Linked DNA regions of Homo sapiens. The protein of the gene in region 1 purifies or fractionates together with the protein of each later gene. This does not show direct contact. Each region holds a gene or a part of one and is shown on either strand. Other genes may lie near its edges.

Region 1 (8,073 bases):
CATAGAAGTTAGGAAAAACTTATTTGGGAGAAAGGTATGAAGACCTTTTCTCTTACAGGTTTTTTAAAAAAAATAATTTTAGGGGGAAATTCCCTGGTGAAAATGTTTTTACTCCTGAAGTTTTTTGAAGTATTGCATATCTGTTCCAAATTAGTCTCTAGCAGTTGACTAAACCCACAAGATTGTCCAAATTGGAATGTGTTTTTAGTTTTGTTATGTTGAATTTCACTATCTGTGGCTGATTAAATAAAAGTTGGCCTGGAAAATTCACTTGAATGTGGTAAACATGGGAAAACAACCAAGATACCCAGTGGAGTTTTGCTACAAGAGGTAGTTGTAAAGTCTGCGTAAGTTAGGGTTTGACACGCTCTTACTCCCTAAGATAGGTTTCTGCTTCCTGGGTTTTATGTCCTGATTTGTTGCTGATGTGTCCTGTTCCTTCTTTTTCTGTGCTCTATTTCTCTTCAATAACATTTGACAAGTTAACCTTGTTTTCCATATACATTTTTACTCCTTTTTGCTTTTCAATAGGGAAGTTTGTGATATCCAGCTTATTAAGTACACTAAGCAGCTCCAAAGAAAAATTAAACATTGAACACTTACTAACACTCCTTACCTCTTTGCTATTGACAACCATTCCTTTCTCACGTTTAGCTGAGCTATTTTCTGAAGTCTTTGATTTGCCATTTTGAAACCTGAAAAAGAGGCAGAACATCCGGTTGCACTTTCTGGCTCAGAGGCCTGGACTTCTGCATATTGTCAGTCTCCCTCAACAAAGTTTGGAAGCCTAACTCAGACAAGTCCAATTTAGGTGATCACATCAGTAATTGACTAAGTAGCAAAAAAATCAGACTCATTATCCAGCCTGCATGCTAGGGAAAAGCAAGACTTCAGTTTGGAGAGTTAAACAAGTGGGACCTTTGGATGACTCAGTGACATCCATTGAGTTGGTTTCTTCTAAAATAAGGATTTTAGACCATTCACAGAAGTGCTCTAACGACTGCTTAAGGAAATTATTTTGGGAAGTTAGATCCTCACAATACCCTTAAAAACCACCTACTATTTTGAATACTTACCTGCCTATTCTTCTTCCACATGGAAATTGCCCTGTTTTTGCCAGTGATTGGCCAATGATTAGCCAATGAATCTGTGAGAAGGAATATAGTTAATAGAACCTCACAACTAAGTTTCCAATTCTTGTTGACCTTGCTTGGATTACTGGCTCTCATGTCTTCCTAACCACATCTCTGAAGACTTCTCTTCTTAGAACTAGGGTAGTAAAAATAATCAACAATGGCAAATATTTCTGTACTCTACTCTGTTACCCTCACCCTAATACCAATTCTCTTTGCAGAAAATAGGGTGAAGCAGCTTCTATTCTTTGCTATTCTTTTTAAACCCATTTGCTGCCAGAACATAATGTAAAATGCTCCTCAGTAAGATTTGGTTAATGATTAAGATAAATGGCCTGCTTCTTCCTTGGAGATAGTTCCATTGGGTGGTTAAATTAGCTCAAAGTAAGAAGAATTATGCAACTATCTCAACTAGACCTCTCTCCTTTAAAAATGAGGATAGCAGAATAAGGACCAAAATAAAAGTAGAAATAGCCACGCTATGTCGTTTGTAGGTCAACTGGCTATAGCGTGCTACAAATAATCCCCAAATCCATGATTCTATCCCATTCAAGCATAGCTACCTTCCATCTGTTGCTGGCCACCAGTTGCACCATTAACTCAGGTCAGAGGTCTTAAAAACGGTCCCAACAGAGTAGGTGACCCATGATGGAGAGACCAAAATTCATCCCAACTTAACATCTTAAAGTTTGTGCCCTTTCATTAAGTTATCTAATAATTAGTAATACAGTATAATATTTATTGTAGCACTTTTCAAAATGATTCTTTGATACCTAAAAGGAAGCACAGAATCCCGGATACTCTTCTTCAGGGCCAATTTAAGGCATAGAACTATATGAAAAGCGCTTCTTTAGCCCAACAGCGTCCATCTGGAACAAGCTGGTGCTTTCTTTTTGACAAAAGCAACCATGAAATACAGACCAAGATCCGGTTTTTGATCCAGGGACAATCAGTCAATTAAAATATGTTTAATGAGAGTCTACTCTGTGACCAGCACCATTCAACGTGCTGTGGGCTATGCAATAAGTTAATATAAAGTGGTGTTTATAACTTAGTTGGGCAAACAAGACTACATACTTGGTTTGTCTCTTTTGGCTCATTGCTGTTGACTGCTAGTTGGCCAACCCAAGGCAGGTATTCACCCAAGGCCAAATTCAGGTCTCTAAATAGTCCACGTTCTGCAGGGGTTCAATTCAATCCAAATATTCTTTCCTTAGCACACAGTGTGTACTCATGCCCCATTCTTGAGCCTGTATGGGAAACAAGAAAAGACTGATAGGTGCTATTGTAGATGTAGAAAATGCACAAGACATGATGATGCTTGCTCTTAGAAGTTAAATTTATTTCACAAACGGGGGAGGTGGGAGAAAGCGATTATCCAATGTAAAACAATAGTGACAAATACATGCTAATATATTAGGTAAGTCACTTTATCTCTTGGGGTCTCAATTTCCTTATCTGCAAAATGGAAAGTATTAACTAAATGATTTAAAGGTGACATTCTAATTCCATGATAGTGATGAGATTTAACTATAAAAAGATCTGAAATAAAATTAATTCACATATGTCCGTAGAAGGCTAAAGGTGGAGAAGCAGCCATCTTCCAATTTTCTCCTCCTGTCAACAAAGCCATGCTCATTCATAGATTAGGCCTGAGAAGCTGGGAAAAGTGTGTGTATATATTGGGAATGGGAGGATTGCTATACTTTTTGATATAGACAATTAGAAATGGAAGATACAAGCTGATAAGGTAGAACCAACCATTTAGAGAAAAGAAAGGTCAGTGAGCCTTGGGATGTTTCCTAAAGGTTGTGGAGCTTGAGCAGAACCTCGCAGGATAGTGTATGAAGTAGTCTAATTGGAAGATTATTTGTCGTTGTTAAGTAGGAAGAAATAAAAGCAGGTAGGTCGAATGGAGTCACATTATAGGGGCCTTGACAATTAAGTAGAACTTTGAAAAGACCTACATCAGCCCAAATTCCTATGAAGCCCACAGGTTTAGTGGAAAGCCCATAGACAAGGGTTTATGTCTAACTTGATTGTCTAGACAAACCCTAAAGATGATTTCTAGAGTTTATGACAAGACTGAGCTAAACCCTTAAAGTTCCCTTCTAGGGAAATAGAGTAATAAGCGTTTCACCCTTTTCTCACCTTTAATTTTTCTGGAATTGTAAGTCCAATTCATGTATATGGTGAAACTAAAATAAAAATGAGCTGTCAAATTGGGCAGTATAAGTCTTGGGTTGCTAGTCTGCAGGCCAGGCTGAAAAACAAATCACACAAACACTAAAACTACATTCAAAATAAGAATGTAAAAACCTGGTGTACACTACCTTTAAGAACATCACGAAATCATAGTTTGGTGAAGAAGGCAAAGTCTTTGGCATGGGAACTTTCCATTTTGAAAATATCGTAATTATTCTTTTCTGGATTCTGGAGGAGACAGAGGGAATTTGTGATGAATAGGCAATCTAGAATGCTGAGGTGTTCTGTGTTGGAGACAGAGAATGAAAAGGCCAAAACTTAAAGGCATATTTAAACAAAATCTGCCAATCTCTTATTTTGCCAGCCTATGACTTCTCTACACACACACACACACACACACACACACACACACACACACACACACATCTTCACCATCTCTTAATCTACCTCTACCTAAGCCAATGTTTTCACTGCATTCTTCAAATACAGTGAGCATTTTTTCTTATTCCCCATACTTAAAATGCTGTCCCCAATCTCTTCAGCCATTTGAATCTTCTCCTTCTCCTTCTCCTTCTCTTTCTTCTGACGGAGCCTCACACTGTCACAAGGCTGGAGTGCAGTGGCACAGTCTCAGTTCACTGCAACCTCTGTCTCCCTGGTTCAAGTGATTTTCCTGCCTCAGCCTCCAGAGTAGCTGGGACTACAGGCGCCTGCCACCATGCCCAGCTAATTTTTGTATTTTTAGTAGAGACGGGGTTTCACCATGTTGGCCAGGATGGTCTCGATCTCTTGACCTTGTGATCCACCCACCTCAGCCTCCCAAAGTGCTGGGATTACAGGCGTGAGCCACCATGCCCAGCCCTGAATCTTCTTTCTTTATGTTACTACTCAGGTCATTCCTTTAAAGAGAAGATTTTCTAGATTAATGCAATCCCAAACTCTAGACTATAGTCACTGGGTTTTGTGCATGTCATTGTATAGTGTCTTGTAGTTCTGTTTTCACTTTTCTTATGTGCGGGTCTTGTCTGCCTCTTAAGCTGTGAGTCCCTTAAAAGTGGAAATGTAAATTTTAAACATATTTGTGCCCCCCTCCCAGTGCTTTGTATCTTATGCATTCAAAACTAGTGTTTGCTTATTTCAATATATTTGCTGAACATTTATGACATATTAGACACTCTCCTAGGTGATGAGAACAAAGCATAAATCAGATGTAATTCTTGAGCTCCTTTAGGAGCTCACAGTTTAGCCAGGAAGAGAGACAAAGAAACGGTTGATTGCAACAGAGTAGAATGCCAAATTAGATCTAAATTTAGGGTACTATGGAAGCAATGAGGAAGGGGACTTAACCCATACTGAGAAGAGACTGAGAGAGATTTGGAACTACTGCCTAAACTGAGCTGGGGAAGATGAGTGTGAATTAACCAGGTGATGAGAGGACAGACATTTGAGAAAGAGGGAGAAGCAGAGGCAAAAACATGAGAATACAACAAAGCCTGGCTTATTTAGGGGAATTGAAAATACTGTAATTGCAATATGCCAGGAACATAAGATTTAGGGGAAGGGTAGTGAGAGGTGAGACTAGAGAGGAAGACAGGATCCAAATCCTAAAATGAACTATTTGATAGGAAGTTTGTGGGTTATTCTGAGTAATGAAGCGCTAACAAGAGATTTTAAATGAGGTATAATCTCCTTATTGAACAATATATATTTTAGAAATACAAAAATAGTGGCATGTGAACTATAGATTGGAAAGACAGAAGAACTATAGATTAGAAAGATGCAAAGAGGTCCTTGAGAAGTCTATGACAGTGCTGAGGAGGGGTTGAGAAATTATAAGGGTCTATAGCCATCACCAATTAGTGCCATTCACTCCTGCATCCTAGCTCTGGATGATTGATTCAAAGGTGGCCAACCAGGTTATACTAAGAATTTGAAAGTTTGCTAATGACCCACAGAGCTGTAAGATGATTGCACCTGAGCCACCTCATGTGGTATCCCAGGCTGGAAGACTCTGAGCTCTGAGCTCTACCTGCTGAGGTCCCCGGAGCTGCCCCAGATCTAGTCCTTCCTAAAGCAAGACTACACAATTTTCTCTTCAGTTCTGTGAGCTTTCCTAATATTCTTTCAAATAAATCCTTTATTTTCTTAGGGTTCATTTCTGCAGTTTATGACCAAAAAAAAAAAAAAAAAAACCTAATATGGGCTCTGAAGCAGGGTGTCCAATCTTTTGGCTTCCCTGGGCCACGTTGGAAGAATTGTATTGGACCACACATAAAATACTCTAACGCTAACAATAGCTGATGAGCTAAAACAAATCACACAAAAAAAACTCATAATGTTTTAAGAAAGTTTTTGAATTTGTGTTGGGCTGCATTCAAAGCCATCCTGGGCCACGTGTGGCCCATGGGCCATGGGTTGGACAAGCTTGCTCTAAAGCAAGGTAGTGGCAGTGAAGAGGGTTAAAAAAGGATATATGAAAGATGTTAGGAGGGTAGAATTAATAGAACTTGGTAACTAGTTGAATACATGAGATAAGGAATATAATCACATTTTTAGCTTTGTTACCTGAGTTAATGGAGGTGCAAGTTACCAAATTAGAGAACAAAGGGAATGGAGCAAGTTTGGGGGATAAATGATGAATTTTGTTTCTGGTCAGTTGAGTATGAGGCAGAGGTGAGGATGTTGTCTAGTAAGTAGTTTAAAATATGGGACTGGAGCTCAGGAGAGACAGGTTTGGTACTATAGATTGAATGTTTATGTCCTCTGCCTCCCTAAATTCATATGTTGATACTGAGTCCCTAATTATGAGGGTATTAGGATGTGGAGCCTTTGTGGGGGCAATTAGTGCACTTATAGAAGTGGCTTCAAAAGCACATCTTTACTCCTTCTGCCATGTGAGGACACAACAAAAAGCCGGTCCTCACCAGATACTGAATGTGCCAGCACCTTGATTTTGGACTTCCCGGCCTCTGGAACTGTGAGAAATAAATTCCTGTTGTTTATAATCCACCCAGTTTATGGTATTTTGTTATAGCAGCCTGAACAGACTAAGCCATTTGGGTAGAATTATGCATTTGGAAGTCAGCCTCAAGCATTATGTGCTAATTGAAGCCATTGGACTAGATAAGATCAAGTAGGAAAAATGGTGGACTAACAAGAGACTAAAGCATAGAACCATGCCCCAGACTATGTAAACATCCAAAAAAGAGCATCATAAATGAATTTTGTAAAGAACATGGAAAAGGAGTGGCCAGAGATTGAAAGAGAACTAGGAGGAAGTGGCCACAGGTGGGATGATATCATTGGAAGGGATGCTATTATGAAAAAGGAAACAAATTTTTTAGCTTCAAGCAGCAAGTTTTGAAGGTATAGAAAAAGATTAAAACTTGCAAAAATGACCAAAAGCTTAATAAGCAATCCAATGCTGCCACTTATAAGGCAGATAAATCTAGACTGAAAAAAACCTACAAGGCTTGGGTTCATGGAAATGCCAGGATTTGCTTGAAGAAACAGAGACCATCTGGTAAAAGAGAATGTGAATCCCCATTGTTTGTCTTCTTTTTTCAGAGATACAGGGGCTGCATTGATCAAAACTCAGGGCGATCCTCCCTGCCTACTACTCCTTGGGTGTTGATCTATGACAGGGCCTAAGAACAGCTCCCCCTTATCCCTTCACCTACATAACTTTCCACATTCAGATGGAGACTTCACACCCCAGGTAACAGCTGGGCAGGGAGGACAGGGTGCTGGGGTGGCACAGTGCATTCTGAGAGATGTGACCTCAGGAGCAAAGAGCAGGAGGAAGGGCACAAGATGGGAGGAACTGTTTTTTTGAACAGTTTTGTCCTCTTTTCTCATTTCTAACTGTTTATAAAATAGAAACGGCTACCTTTATGGAAGTATTGGTATGGAAAGTAAGGAAGTGTGGAAAGAAGCATCTACCCTTCATGAAAAAAGGTAGTGGCACAGAATGCCAAGCAAGGGTAGTTTGCCCCATTTTTGTCTTCTTTCATTCTTTCTTTTTCTTTCTTTCTTTCTTCTTCTTTCTTTCTTTCTTTCTTTCTTTCTTTCTTTCTTTCTTTCCTTCTTTCTTTCTTTCTTTCTTTCTTTCTTTCTTTCCTTCTCTCTCTCTCTCTCTCTCTCTCTCTCTCTCTCTCTCTCTCTCTTTCTTTCTGTCTTTCTTTCTTGCATTTTCAGACAGGGTCTCATTCTGTTACCCAGGCTGAAGTGCAGTGGCATCATCATAGGTCACTGCAGCTTCAAACTCCTGGGCTCAGGCACCCACCCACCTCAGCCTCCTGAGTAGCTGGGACTACAGGCATGCACCACCATGCCCAGCTTTTTTTTTTTTTTTTTTAAAGAGACATGGTCTCACTGTGTTGCCCAGGCTGGTCTTGAAATCCTGGCCTCAAACAATCTTCCTCTCTCAGCCTCCCAAAGTGCTGGGATTACAGGCATGAGCTACTATACCTAGCCACTCTTCCTTCCTTCTTTCCTTTCTCTCCTTCCTTCCTTCCTTCTTTCCTTCCTTCTTTCTTTCCTTTTTTTTTTTTTTTTTTTTTTTTGATGGAGTCTTGCTGTGTCACCCAGGCTGGAGTGCAGTGGCATGATCTCGGCTCACTGCAAGCTCCACCTCCTGGGTTCACACCATTCTCCTGTCTCAGCCTCCCAAGTAGCTGGGACTACAGGCACCCACTACCACGCCTGGCTAATTTTTTGTATTTTTTTAGTAGAG
Region 2 (3,995 bases), on another chromosome or scaffold:
CTTATTTGACCTAAACTTTGGCCAGAAGATTGAGGGTTTGAGGATAGGTCTCTGAGTCCAAATAAAACAGCAATATTTTATCATCTGTTGCATGGCTTTTGTAGGTCACAGGTATTACATTGCCTTCATAGGCCACTTCTTCATAAGAACATTTTAAACATACTTTACAACTGTATTGGTAAGACGAAGTATAGAATTCAGGCTAGATTCATTGGTATATGTTCATTAATATTACAATCACTTCAGGAAATTATTCTTTAAATTATAACATTTTCATACACCCCTATGTATATTGTGGGCCTGGATCCCTGCCCTTGCCTTGCCTGATGGAAGAGTCGGCCCTGGTGAAGCTGAGTTGTCCAGACACATAGACAGGGTCTTCCTGGGTGAGGGGATAGCCCCAGAAGGAAAAGGGACAGGCAATAACCTAACCCTGGTGACAGGAGTGCTGGGGACAGGACACGATGGAGACCCCGGTTCCATTTAAACATCCCCTTCTGTGCTGGGTCCCTGCATAGCACACTCACTCCCCTCAACCCTCATTGCCTTTGCAGCTCACTGTGGGGCAGGGGAGGATGGACCCACTGGCAGAGACTGGACTGAGAAAAGTTGCACAATTTAAGGTGTCGCTATGCTAGCAAACTCAGTCATCAGGGTAAGTAATATTTTCATGCAATATTTTAAAAGTTCAAAATTAATGCCAACATCCATGAACGACAAATAAAACTCAAAATTTAAAATCCAGACAGGATCCACCTTGCTTTGCAGGCCTCCCCTCCCTGGCTGGCTCTGGTCTGGGCCCTGCACACGTTGGGGAGGCCCAAAGACAACCCAGAGGAGCCTGGCATAACCAGCAGGGCTCAGCATGGATGGGACTGGGGTAAAATCAGGGCTTCTGAGCATGACTCCAAGAGTGTGAGGTCCCCAGAGAAAGTGGCTTAGGGAGGTAGTGGGATGTGGAGAGTGAAACACTCTTCAGAGAAAAATTAGCTAAGCAACAAGAGCTAATACTTTGTTCTGCAGAGAGAGAGAAGTCCAACTCTTGGGCTCGAGATGATGAGAAATAAAGTATTTCCCAGAAACCTCGGACCCTCACTCAACTCCTTCGAGGCTTGTCTCTGTCTGCAACCTACAGCCTGACTGTGCAGCCTGGAAAGCTTCTTTTTTTATAGAAGAACAAGAAAGAATTTTAGTGATTTGCAGTTAGTTTATTGAAATGGAAATGAATTTGAGGTTTCAACAGTTGTCTAGCAGTTTCCACATAAAAAGACAACACAAGAAAGAAAAGTGGTTTCTAGCAATCAACAGATGAGTTCTGGCCATAGTCTGTAGCCCTCTGAGCCAAACGCCTTGGGTAAAGTTAATTACTCTTCATATTACACCAAATGCTGTCGTACACTGTATGCTGGAAAACAAAAGCAGGTCACTTAGGTTTGCAAATTTCACTTATTAAATCAAATATTAAAACTTGTCTTCTTGTTTTCTTGCATTTGTCCACAAACAGCTAACTCTCAGGAGGATTTGCAGTGGAAGCAAAGCCAGCATCCCCTCTCCATTTATTCTGTTATCTAGGAGACACTTCATAATGCCAAACAGGGGCCAGGGTTGTAGGATCTCTTCCCTACCAGTGATCCATGTAATACTTTTTTTCTCCAAAAATTCTATCCTTTGAAATAACTTATCCAATAAATATGCTGCATATACTATTTGTTGAAGACCTGATCATTTGGACTGTTTCTGATACCACTTTTACAACACAGAATTATTAAAAAATCTCAGCTCAGATACAAGAATGTGATGGTTTTGAGTTGCTGCACAGGCATAAAAGGTAGAAATGTTGTAACAGTCTGAGACTCTTCACCATTACCTTTGAGGCCTATGAAATATTGGAGCTGGGCTGGGTGGGATGGCTCATGCCTGTAATCCCAGCACTTTGGGAAGCCAAGGAGGGCAGATTGCTTGACCCCAGGAGTTTAAACCAGCCTGGACAATATGACAAAATGCCATCTCTACAAAAAAAAAAATATATATATATATATGTGTATATATGTGTATATATGTATATATGTGTATATATGTGTATATATGTATATATGTGTGTATATATGTATATATGTGCATATATGTGTACATATATGCATGTATATGTGCACATATATGTGTACATATGTGTACATATGTGTGTACATATGTGTGTATATATGTGTGTGTGTATATATATGTATATATATGCCAGGTGTGTTAGTGTGCACCTGTAGTCGCAGCTACTCAGGAGGCTGAAGCGGGAGGATCACTTGAGCCCAGGAGATGGAGGCTGCAGTGAGCTGTGATTGTACCACTGCATTCCAGCCTGGGCAAAAGAGCAAGACTCTGTCTCAAAAACAAAAACAAAGACAAAAAAACGGAAACAAGAAACACTGGAGTTTTACAATATGAATGATTAATCTGAGGGGTTTTTTTGGTTTGTTTAGGATTTTTGTTTGTTTGTTTGTTTTTGAGATGGAGTCTTACTCTGTTGCCCAGGCTGGAGTGCGGTGGCACTATCTTGGCTCACTGCAATCTCTGCCTCCTGGCTTCAAGTAATTCTTCTGCCTCAGCCACCCAAGCAGCTGGAATTACAGGTGTGCGCCACCACGCCTAGCTAATTTTTGTATTTTTAGTAGAGACAGGGTTTCAGCATGTTGGCCAGGCTGGTCTTGAACTCCTGACCTCAAGTGATCTGCCCGCCTTGGCCTCCTAAAGTGCTGGGATTACAGGTATGAGGGATGCACCTGGCTAATCTGAGTTTTTAAAGAAAAAAATGATTCAACCATCCCAAATTGCAGTTAATATTTATTTTTATCCTTGAGCATTTGATATATCTTTACATTTTTTATTATGGAATGTTTTAAATAAAATTTTAGGGTATTAAATAAATTCTTAAAAAAAAAATGTAATCCCAGCACTTTGGGAGGCTGAAGCGGGCAGATCACCTGAGGTCAGGAGTTTGAGACCAGCCTGGCCAACATGGTGAAACCCCATCTCTACTTAAAATACAAAAATTAGCAGGCTGTGGTGTTGTGTGCCAGTAATTCCAGCTACTCCGAAGACTGAGGCAGGAGAATCACTTGAACTCAGGAGCCGGAGATTGTAGTGAGCCGAGATCGTGCCATTGCACTCCAGCCTGAGCAACAAGAGCTAAACTCCATCTCGAAAAAAACGAAAAACAAAAAACAAAACTCGTAACCAACACATCTTTATAAACAGACAGAAATACTCCTTGTTATAACCACTGACTTTTGTTTTAAACAATTCTAGCACTCGTGCTGTTTCATACCCATAATCTGCACTTCCCACTTCATGAGGCACTTAATTAAGTGGTGCATGACTTCCAGTCATGTATGCTAACAAATCTTGGTTGCTTGGACTTGCATTTTAAATTCTTTATTTTAGGCCGGGAGCAGTGGCTCACACCTGTAATCCCAGCACTTTGGGAGGCCGAGGCGGGCAGATCACCTGAGGTCAGGAGTTCAAGACCAGCCTGGCCAACATGGTAAAATCTCATCTCTACTAAAAATACAAAAATTAGCTGGGCATGGTGGTACATGCCTGTAGTCCCAGCTACCTGAGAGTCTGAGGCACAAGAATTGCTTGATCCCAGGAGGCAGAGGTTGCAGTGAACGAAGATCATGCCACTGCACTCCAGCCTGGGCAACAGAGTGAAACTCCATCTCAAAAAAATTTTTTTCTTTATTTTAGAAAATGCAGAATTTGCACAAATTGTATTTTCTGAGCTAGATAAAAAAAAATAAGAATGTTTTGAATATTTGTTTTTGTGAAAGTAGGAAATTTCTTAGTAGATTGCTCCTACAAGTGTGTGATCTCTTGAGAACCAGATATTTTCTCTTGATAAAAATGTGCATGTTCTGGCTGGGTGCGGGGGCTCAGACCTGTAATCTCAGAACTCTGGGAGGCCAAGGGAGGCAGATCACTTGAGGTTAGGAGTTTGAGACCAG

Evidence for each region. The genes of interacting proteins can lie anywhere in the genome.
Region 2: the proteins of TSGA13 (region 1) and SCGB2A1 purify together in Homo sapiens (affinity purification with mass spectrometry; 3 studies listed by BioGRID and IntAct, with this or other methods). This does not show direct contact.

The regions. Positions count from the first base shown.
Region 1 is NC_000007.14:130,682,978-130,691,050, forward strand, and holds the start of TSGA13 (testis-specific gene 13 protein), read right to left. Parts: upstream 3,569-8,073; 5' UTR 3,285-3,568; intron 2,384-3,284; 5' UTR 2,234-2,383; coding exon 2,211-2,233; intron 696-2,210; coding exon 617-695; intron 1-616.
Region 2 is NC_000011.10:62,211,136-62,215,130, reverse strand, and holds the end of SCGB2A1 (mammaglobin-B precursor), read right to left. Parts: intron 1,406-3,995; coding exon 1,361-1,405; 3' UTR 1,188-1,360; downstream 1-1,187. UniProt on the Homo sapiens protein: May bind androgens and other steroids, may also bind estramustine, a chemotherapeutic agent used for prostate cancer. May be under transcriptional regulation of steroid hormones.